2 separate regions of the Homo sapiens genome follow, and region 1 is linked to region 2. The links come from fine-mapping of genetic effects on gene expression. A gene starts in region 2. The other region holds a variant in brackets. All regions are shown on one strand. Distances are between the middles of the regions. Region 1 overlaps PCNX2 (pecanex 2). Region 2 holds the start of PCNX2 (pecanex 2).

The links. PIP is the estimated chance that this variant, and not a neighbour inherited with it, causes the effect.
Region 1: its variant is the best candidate, but not a certain one, in a credible set for the expression of PCNX2 in whole blood (TOPMed, PIP 0.64).

What each region holds. Positions count from the first base shown.
Region 1 is chr1:233,056,659-233,062,038 of GRCh38, reverse strand. PCNX2 (pecanex 2) reads left to right here. Exons shown (of 34, transcript NM_014801.4): 24 at 4,749-4,807. Among named protein-coding and RNA genes, the nearest start is that of NTPCR, 110 kb to the right of the region's middle. The variant AAG/G (reference allele first, on the strand shown) is at 2,474.
Region 2 is chr1:233,292,628-233,298,007 of GRCh38, reverse strand. PCNX2 (pecanex 2) reads left to right here and starts at 2,283. Exons shown (of 34, transcript NM_014801.4): 1 at 2,283-2,682. The coding sequence starts at 2,530. RefSeq lists a silencer at 2,188-2,567 and an enhancer at 2,848-2,897.

The sequences.
Region 1 (5,380 bases), 240 kb after region 2:
GCCTGTAATCCCAGCACTTTGGGAGGCCGAGGCAGGTGGATCACCTGAGGTCAGGAGTTTGAGACCAGCCTGGCCAACATGGTGAAACCCCATCTCTACTAAAAATACAAAAATTAGCTGGGCGTAGTGGTGCATGCCTGTGATCCCAGCTACTCGGGAGGCTGAGGCAGGGGAATCGCTTGAACCCAGGAGGCGGAGGTTGCAGTGAGCCAAGATCGCACCACTGCACTCCAGCCTGGGCGACAGAGTAAGACTCTGTCTCAAAAAAAACAAAAACAAATACAAAACAATAACAACAAAAATAAATATAAAGAAAAAAACCAACAAAACTTTCTTTAAACTCAAAGTTGTTGGTTGCTCAAAACCTTCAAAGTACTGAAAATTCAGATCAAAATCCAGTAGAAGGAAAGCACCCAGCACTCATAACCATTTTTATTCAAGACCATCTGCCAAACCTGAAAAAAGAAACAGCCAAACTGAGCTGTTTGTGGTCTTGGAGGGCAAATGTATGAAAAGTCAAAACCCAGGCCCAGTAAGGCTGGAGGTCACCTGAAGGCGCTGATCCGAGGCAGTGCTCACCCTGATGGGTGTACAGCAGTATGTCCTCAGGAAATGTCTCGTGCCAAATCATTCTGAGCTGCGTGGTGACAGCAGAGTGCCATTGACTTTGCAAGAGCTAATACGATTGTTAGTAGCAGCAGCAATTAAGGGCAGAAAAACAAACCTAGCTGTACCTTGTGCATATAATCAATTTTAAAGGAGACAGTACCCCTGTATTTAAACTCTGGCTGCCTTTTCATTGTCCAGATTTCTTTAAGGTTGGTCTGCCTATGAATAGAATTACAGTCTATTTTTAACTCTGTCTTGGATTTGCTATATGAACAGACCCCCACCAAACTTCTCACTCCGGCCAGCAGTATTTCCTCACCAAAAAATAAGACAACTTTTACCATAGACTGTGTGTACTGACAAAGGGGAATTTGAAGCATTATCAATATAGAAAATTACTTTTAAATTATTTAAGTTGTTCAGATGAAACTGAGAGAGAAGGTGCTTGACTTAGAGAGACTGGCCATGGGGTGGAAAGGCCAAGTTTGAAGGGAAGAAGCCAGCTCTGCTCTCTGCATTTTGTATTAACATAAAAGAGGGGTGCTTCTCAGTAAGTCCGCTTCTCTGGAGAGTCCTGTTATACGACTCTTGTTCTGTAGTGCTCAGGACAGCATTAGCCAGCAATGCACAGTGACTTTGTCAGGCAAGTGCTAGGAAGACCATGCATGCAGACGCATGCCTAATGTGTACCAGGATTGCATGTTCCCACTGAGATTGGGGAGTGAGCTATAAGCCCTGTTTCCTCTTTGAGCTACAGAGCTGATGTTCATTTGATTGGACAGTTAAGGCAGAAATCCAATTACTGAGCTAATTAGCACCTTTGAGGGGTAAGCACCAAATTTACAGGAGGAAAGCACTGGAGAAAACTCAAATTACCCAGTGTGGCTGACAGTCCACCCTCTTAGAGAATGTGTGGAGAGCCAGAGGTCCTGGGGGTACACAGGCAGCTTAACTTAGTTATTGCTCATCAGAATTTAGACTGTGTTCTATAGGCTTCTGAAAAGATAGCTTTCCAGTGAACATAGTTTTAGAAGGTGTTTTAGTTCCCTAAGGAGTTTAGTAAATGATTTTCTTTTGTCTTAATCCTCCTTTAAAAGTTGTTTATTCTGCTGCTTGAAAATTCCATTTGTGGTAGGTCTTAAGGTGAAATTAAAATTCCATTTAGGGACTAACTATGCAGACGTGGGACTTCAGCCTTCATTAAAAAGAATTTTGTTGGTTGCTGGATTTTCTGCTACCCTGAGATCTTTCATTTTTCAAAGCTGCTATGAGAGTATTTGTAAGGAAAACTAAAGCTGTAATAGAACAGCATACTTGGGTTCACAGCCTTTCTGAAATGTAACACAGTATTTCTTCTCTCCAATCCATCCGTAGCATCACAGAACTCAACAGGATCTTGCCTAGATGGTTCCCAAATGTCTAAGACATACATGAAAAGAAAGAATACTTTTTTTTTCTGAAGACAAGCCTTTTCATTTATTCAAATTATAGTTCCAACCAAATATCTTTTTATCTGTTTTTATTCCCAAAAGACAAGTTCACAAAAGAAGGCTGCATTCTTAGGTTTCTTCTTAAGCACCATTTCTGACAAGTGCTTTTCATTTATTAAATTATACAGAATATGTCAATGATCATGTTTAAACATAAGCCACATATGCAGCATTGACTGGCAGCTAGTCTTGTTTCTTCTTAGCAAATATTATAAGGACAAGAACTTCAGAAGTAGCCTTATCTTTGACCATTCAATAATTTATTCTGCAAATATTTATTGAGTGACTACTATGTGCCAGTTGTGAGCAACAAACTTACTCTCATGGTACTTAGGGACTGATGTAAGAGTCAGATATCATCAGATAATTACACA[AAG/G]AGATGTATGATGTGGTGTAAAGTAAAGGCTCCTAAGCCAGCCTCCCTAGGTCATATTCTGGCTGTGCCACCTGTTAGATCTGTGACCTTGAGCACTCTATTTAATTTCTCTGTGCCTCTGCCTCATCCGCCGTGAGAATGGGTATAATGAGTACCTACCTCAGAGGGTAGTTTTGAGGCAATAATAAGCCAATACATATAAAGTACTTAGAACAGGCACATGACACAAGCAAGTGCTACATAAATGTTAGCTGCCATTGTTATGATTGATGTTAGCCTTGACAGGTGCTCCAAAAGAGAGGTACAGGTACAACATGTGAAAGAGAACATGACAAAGGAATCTCAAGCAGCACAGGAGTCAAGGCAGCTTCCCTGAGAAGGTGATACTTGAGCTGAGACTTGAAGGATGAGAGGAGTCAATGAGGAAAAATGAGTGGGAATGGAAAGGGATCCCTAAGTAGAGGGAACATTTGCAAAGGATACTGGAGAGGAAGGAATGACAGGACTAAGAGGTCTGGGCATGCTGAAGGGGTGGAAAAGGAAAACCAACAGGCTTGGAGCAAAGAAAGCAAAGGGTGGAGTGATAGAAAAGGCAGGAGCTGGCCAGGCGCTGTGACTCACACCTGTAATCCCAGCACTTTGGGAGGCCAAGGCAGGTGGATCATGAGGTCGAGAGAGCGAGACCATCCTGGTCAACATGGTAAAACCCCGTCTCTACTAAGAATACAAAAATTAGCTGGGCATGTGGCGCATGTCTGTAATCCCAGCTACTGGGAAGGCTGAGGCAGGACAATCGCTTGAACCCAGGAGGCGGAGGTTGCCATGAGCCGAGATTGCACTGCTGCACTCCATCCTGGTGACAGAGCGAGACTCCATCTCAAAAAAAAAAAAAAAAAAAGAAAAGAAAAGAAAAAGAAAAAGCAGGAGCCAGATGTGTTCAAGACCAGGCTTTCTACAATTGTCAGTGGGACCTTCATTATGCCCAAATCCTTAAGTAAACCCTATGTGTGATGCTGATATATTTGTGGAAGCCCTTTCTTAATGGCGAATATATCAGATTTAACCATATGAAATTGCCATTTTGTAGGTGATAATAAACAGTTGACTATCGTCAATTTCATAGGCCTGATGTCAATTTCATATTTCATTCTTTAAAGACCGCCACTCATTGTTGGAAATAAAAGGACAAAGGTAGGCTGGCATAGCCTCTCCAAGAGAGCAGATCGCTGCACTTACAAAGGGTTTTGGGGATGTGTGGAGTTCAAGGACTGGTGAGGTTTTGGAGGCATACATGGGTTGATGGCATCTGTATAGGTGGTTACTTGAAAAGCCTGTTATTCATCAGTTGCCCCTCAAGTCTGCAGTGAGTCGGCTAACTCTCAGAAGCCAGGGGTTGTCATGGACTGGCTGCCTTACAAAAGCTGTGCACTGAGGGGTGTTTACATGATGGAATAGGTTCAAAGCTGGTTCTAGTGGCCACTTGTTACCATGGCTGCAGATGATCCGAGAGCTTTCATTCTCATGGTTCAACCTAAGAAAGGTCTATAAGAGTATACCCCACTCTTGAAAGCAGGTGGTGGAGACGTTGACTACTCACCACCATTTCCTGAAATCAATTTGAAGAGAAAGATACCTTTGTGGACACTGTTCTCAAGTTCTGAAAGTGGGTAGCATTACATTGGCAGTTTAAACACTTGCTTTTTTTTTTTTGAGTCTTGCTCTGTCACCCAGGTTGGAGTGCAGTGGTGCAATCTCGGCTCACTGCGACCTCGGCCTCCTGGATTCAAGTTCAGCCTCCCAAGTAGCTGAGATTATAGGAGTGTGCCACCACACATGGCTAATCTTTTTGTATTTTTAGTAGAGATGGAGTTTCACACTGTTTGCCAGACTGGTACCAAGCTCCTGACTTCAAATGATCTGCCTGCCTCAGCCTCCCTAAGTGTTGGGATTACAGGCATGAGCCACCGTGCTCAGCCTAAATACTTGCTTTGATTTTGCAGATCTGGTGCTCCAAATTGATTAAGACACAAGACCGTTCTCTCCAAATCAGAGAGCTACTCATCTCTCCCTTCCATGTGTTTCTTGTACTGCTCCCTCTATCTCTTATCATGAGACTCCTCTCTTCCTGCAGTGTGGTAAAACTACAGCAATCGTCTTAACCTGTGAGATCTGTCACCTTTGCATTTTCCACTCATGCAGCTGGTTCTATAAACCAACTCTTCTGCTTGGGGGGATCTAATCATGACCTTTTACCCTTTTGTGGCCTCTTCTAGTACAAGGCGAGTGGATAATTCCAACACAAGACTGGCAGTCCAAATTGAAAGAGATCCAGGTAAGAAGATCTCTTCTCTCTTTTTCAACTATTTATTGTTGTATGGATGGATTCTCAAAAGGAAGAATTAAATACTCACTCTGTACTCATTGTGGAGACAATGCACATCTTAGTTAATCTGCTGAATGTGGAATAAAACTGTGCAGGTAGAGTGATCAAGCAACCTGATTTGGTTTGACAATGCATTGCTCCGCTATTTAGAATTGATTAGGACCTTGCTCAGTATTGCATACCCCTGTTAATCAAGACATTTTAGTTCGTGTGCAGTAAACCTCAAACACAGACTATAAACCTTGAGATTCGTCTTTTAGGAAAAAAAAATTCTTTGGAAAAACATCAGCATGATAATATCCTTAAAGGTAAAGCATTCCATGATCCAGGATCTAGAAGGTTTCAGAAACTTTGGTCAACATTAAGCTATGAAAGGATGTACCTGCTAGAAAATTATTTTACTTTTTTCTTTCCATAATCAATCTCCTTTTTTAACCATTCTATTTCTTCTTTCCTCATATTAGAATGCAAATTTTAACTGTTCTCTATTTTTGTCCTCCTCACTCCCTTCTTTGTGACCCA
Region 2 (5,380 bases):
TTTCACTGCTAATCTTCCTATATCTTATAAATGGATTAGTTTTACAGTATAGTCATCTCAACCCAAAATGGAAAATCATTACATTCCTTATCCCTTTATCTCCACATTGAATTGATCTCTAAGCCTTAAGATCATATATGATCCCTCAACATTTTGTCCCTTCCTGCTGGTTCAGGTGTTCAGCATTTGCCCCTGTACTATCGATCATGTCACATGCATGCTTCAGCCTTCCAGTTCTTGTCCATTGCCTAGGATAAGATCTGAAGAACTTTGTATGGCCCAGGAGACTGACCTTTGCTTATCTCATTAAGTTTCCTACTGTTCCGTTTCTCCCATTCCCAGCCCTACCTTCCAGACATGTTAGACTATCCTGACATTTTCCCCAAATTGCCATGCTCCTCTTTCCACATATACATGTGCCTGGAGAACTATTCCCACTTACATGCCTTGAGAGCTAATATTTAGCTTTAAGACCCAGTTCCCTGGTGCTTATTGACACCACCCCTCCCTCACAGACTTACACATGTCTTCTGCACTCCACAGTGCCCCAGTGCTTCCATATATCTGGATATGTGTCCATTTCTACAATATGATAACAGGCAGCACATTTTATTGCAAGTCTTTGATTTTCCTGCCTCCTCTTGTGGTTTATTAACTCCTTCATGGTAGGGACTATATTTGACTTACATTTGCTTTCTTAGTCTTCTGCAAAATGCTTGACACCCAGAAGGTGTTGAGTAAATATTTGATGAATCAGGACAAGTGAACAAGGACACAACCTCCATGTGGGAACAGACTGTTGCATGACCTTTCCTCCTATACCCATGCACGTGACGGCGCTCCTTTAATGTGGAGTTGATTGGTTGATTAACCCATTAAACACTTATACAGCACCTGGTAGGTTACAAGCATTTTGAGCAGATATACAAAAAAGCCCATTTGTTTACAAGCTGTGTCTTTAAGAAAATTACTCTTCCAGTACAGAAAGCAGCCATATTCCATTTTGATGATTCATTCCTACTGATGAATGTAAAGTAGAAGGAAGAGTGGTTATAGCTGATGGCAGACACACCATAGTGAGGCTTTTGCTGTAACTCAGTGGCCTTTCATGTCCTGGGCCCTCTCCTCATGATGGGCCTGTCCTTATCTTCGTTTCAGCCTGGGAAGGCTGGTGTGCCTTTACTGGGCCTGACTAGGGCAGCCATAAGTAAGTGCTGCTGCAGACCAGAACATGGCCAGGACACAGGCAGGCACACAAGTCAGAGGAGTGTGATGTGTTGGGACAGACCAGGTAAGGATGATGCAGGGAAGGCGTGTTGGGAATCATGGAGCCCTCTAATCTTTGTCTCTCCCTAAGGCTCTAGCTCACACAGGGCTTCTGCTCCTCATCCCAAAGGAAGACAAGCTCCTTTTTATCTCTTCCCTTTCCAAAACCCACTCTCAAAAGAGAATCTAAACTGTATCCACTGTAAATGATAAAATATATAATAGCTTAAAGATTATTAATTTTTTGTCCAGTGGGTCTTCCTGTCTAAACAGCATAGAGAGATTTAGACTAATGTTCTATATAGCCAGTTAAATACCTGGGATTATGTTCTAGGAAAGAGATAAAAAACTAAGGCTAACTGAAGCTCCTAAAATTTTATCAGGAAGGTGGTTATCTTCTTTCTCCACCAAGTTGGACAACAGGGAGTGGAGGAGAAACAGTCAGGGAGGACAGAAGATCAGTGGCAGAGGACCAGGTAGAGCTTAGATTAATAGAACGTCTGGGGTCAGCCCTTAATTAAGGAGAATGAAGTCGTGCAGGAAGTGCTCAGGAGAAGAAATTACTTTGAGTGCTGTGTGACAGGACCTTGTATGAGGTAAATACTTGGGTGCAAAAAAGGACAAGGACAAGGAACGTGTCCTGGGTCTGTGCCTTCTGCATGAGAACACCCTTGCACGTCCCCTAACAGGAGGATCAGAGAGAAGGGGAAGGGAAGAGGGGAGAGGCAAAAAAAAAAAAGAAAGAAAGAAAGAAAAAAAGAGCGAGAAAGAAAGAGAGAGAGAGAGAGAAAGGAAGGAAGGAAGGAAGAAAGAGAGAGAGAGGGAGGGAGGAGGAAGGAAAAAGAGAGAGAGAAAGAAAGAGAGAAAAAGAGAAAGAGAGAAAGAAAAGGCTGGAGGCACTCACAGAAATCCTTCTGGCCCCCAGCGAAGGCTAAGGAGGGACTGGGCGGGCGTTGGGAGGAGCCTCGGAAGCAACCTCTGAGCAGCCGCCTCTGAGCACGATGGGAAAATCCTTCCTCCCTCGGACATGGCGCTCACCTGCCCGGCCGCAGCAGCCGGCTCCGGCGCCGCGGTTCGCGGGTCCGGGCGGAAGAGCAGCTCCAGCTTCAAACGTGGGGTGGAAGGAGGCGGCGGGGGCGACGGCGGCGGCGACGGCGGGGGCGCGGCCCGCGGGCCCGGGTGTTAGACCTGAGGGAGCCTGGAGATCCGGCCGGGGCGCGCAGGGTGCAGCGGGGCGCTCACCAGCCCCGGGGCGCAGCCGGCATGGTGTCCCAGGTGCTGCAGCTGCTCCGGCAGGGCGTGTGGGCCGCGCTCACCGGGGGCTGGTACCACGACCCGGAGCAGAGCAAGTTCACCAACAGCTGCCACCTCTACCTGTGGCTGTTCCTCCTGCTGCTGCCCCTGGCCCTGCACCTGGTGAGTGGGGAGGGTCCGGTCCCGGGGAGCTGTGGGTATGGAGGGAAGAAGGAGAAAGGAACCACAGACGTGCCATCAGCCTCACGGGCTTTCGGGTTCGTAGAGATTCTTAAGAGACGGAAAGGGAGGGGCTTCAGAAATTTGGGACAGAGAACATGCAGGGAAAGGGGACTGTGAGGATTCACTGGAAAAGAAAAGAAGTAGACAGGACTGCGGGGGCTCGGGGACTCATTAAGAATTGATGCCGGATGTTAGGATGAGTCACTCTGCTTGTGGCAGGGAGCGTGCAGCCTGTTTTGTAGGTGGGTAACTCTAGGCCTTAGAGCTGGGTAGCTTGGGATAATGTTTGGTGTGAAATGCTGTAGATTGTAGCCAAGAGGAAAAACGAAATGTAAAAAGCAGACTCATTTCAGTTATTGTCCCCTTTTTCCCCCCTCACCTTCTTTCTTGTTTTGCTTTGAGAAGGCAGTTCAGTTATCAGTTACTCACATTGTAATTTCTACACCACTATGTATAGAAATCTGTAGGAAGATATAATAATGGATAAATCTAATGTACTTTATGCTAAACAAAGTATTACAACATTTAGATGGGGCTTGACATTTTAGTGGGGTTATGGTAAGTGAGTGCTTGCTGAAGAACTACATAGATGGCCTTCTTAGGTAAATTATACGTAATTAAAACAATGGTTTACCTGCTTTGAAAAGCTGTACAGGTAAGGTGTTCCATGTCTTATTAAACTTTACGTGCCAAGAATCTAATTTTGGTATGTCGGTTGGAGGACTTTATTCCTAACACATTATTTGATCATTTTTTTTACAGCAAAAATCGTCAATGAGTTTGCATGACTGATGGATTCCGAGTTTGACATTTGTGATTGGGTTTCTCTTTACTCTTTTTCCGGCAGTGTATCCAAAGGGTCAGAACTCTGGGTGTGAAGTCATGATGCCTAGGTTAAATTTTGGGTCTACTGGTTACCAGTTCTGTGACCTTGGGGAGGTTATTTACCATATCTCATTTTTCATTTTCTTATCTGTAAAATGAGAAAAAGTAATAGTACCAGATTTACAGATTGTTTTAGGGATTAAATGAGATAGTACATATAAAGCCACAGGTCTGTCTTGACCTGAGATTGGACTCAGGCCTTGGGTTTACAATTCTGTTCTGCTACTTATTAGCTGTTTGGTCTGATACTGAACTTTTCTAAAACTTAGCATTCATATCATTAAAACGGATGTGATCATCACAATCACCACTTCACAGAAAAATTAACCAAAATTATATATAAAAAGCATTAAATACAGAAACTGCTTGGAAACCCTGCAATAAATGCAAGTTTATTTCTTCTTTCTGATTCTCCGCACCATTTTTCTTAACCCATTTTTCCTTAGCCTATGGGCCCCAGTGGTTTCTCTTTTCCTAGAGGGACAGCATAGCAAAGTCATGAGGAGCACAGCCCTCACCAGGGTGAAATCCTGGTTCTGCTGCTCACTAGACCTAATATGAGCTTGAGCAAGCTTCACCTTCCTTGTTTGTAAAGCAGGGATAATTACAGTACCTCCCTTATAGGGTGAATATGAGAACTGAGTGAATTAATAGATGAAAGTACTTCTTAGTACCTGTCACACAGAGAGTGCTCAGTAAGAGATAGCCCTTTTTAATCCTTCCCCATCTTCTAAAATCTCTCCATCCTTATGTTTTCTGATTTAGCTAGAATTAATTTCTCTTCTCCCTTGCCCTTATACCATTCTGTATTTACTATTAGTTTTACAGCATTCTGTAGTTAGACTATTAGCATTAATAGTACTTTTCGAATTCTGTCTGGTACTTAGTTGTTGGAACATGTATTTCACTTCTATGTCTAGATCATAAGCTTTTTTGAGGGCATGGATTTTTATGTTGTTTATTCATCTTGGTTTTTCCTTGTACATAGCAGAGTGCTCTGCATTTGGTAACACTGATCTCATATATAATTAACTTGTGTGTCTCTTTCTTTTCCAACTAGCATTAAATAGTCTACCTCACTATACTTTTTGAATATTTCCTAAGAATAAAAGCAATATATTTTCCACCTATAATTCCACTCCTCAGAAACCACCACATTCGCATTTAATGTTGTGTTCCTGCAGATGTTTTTTCCTATGCATATGGGCTCATTTTTATAAAACTCTACTTAAGATTTGATGTCTACGTATGGTCAGAACCCTTAATTTCTACCTAACTATGCTTTATTGAGTAGCTTGATTTAGATCTTGTGTTTGTGAGTAGGAAATTGTCCTTCATTAATTTGCTTTTTGATGATATTTAAATGTAATTTTCAGCTAAATCTCAAAATTTTAGAAAGTAAAGTCTGAGACCTTAAATAATTTTGCTTTTATATCAGACTTTAAAAAAAAACAGATATGCCCAAATTGTTATATCTCTATGCCAGCATGCCTTTAACTATTATAGAATAATTGTATGTGGGTACAGTTACTGTTATGCTACTTTTTAATATATAGCCTGCGTTATTAAAAACATGACAGGTTATTTTTTTCTTGCTTTGGTCTTCTGGTTTCTGAAAGTGCCCTTGAAATAAAAGGCCCTCTTCCCCAAATGGAGGCTTTGTTCTTCAGATCTTCGTGCTTAAATATATTCCTCTGCACTTCAGTGTTGCCTGTGATTGTTAATGTCTTTTTCAATTTGTTCATTTACAATC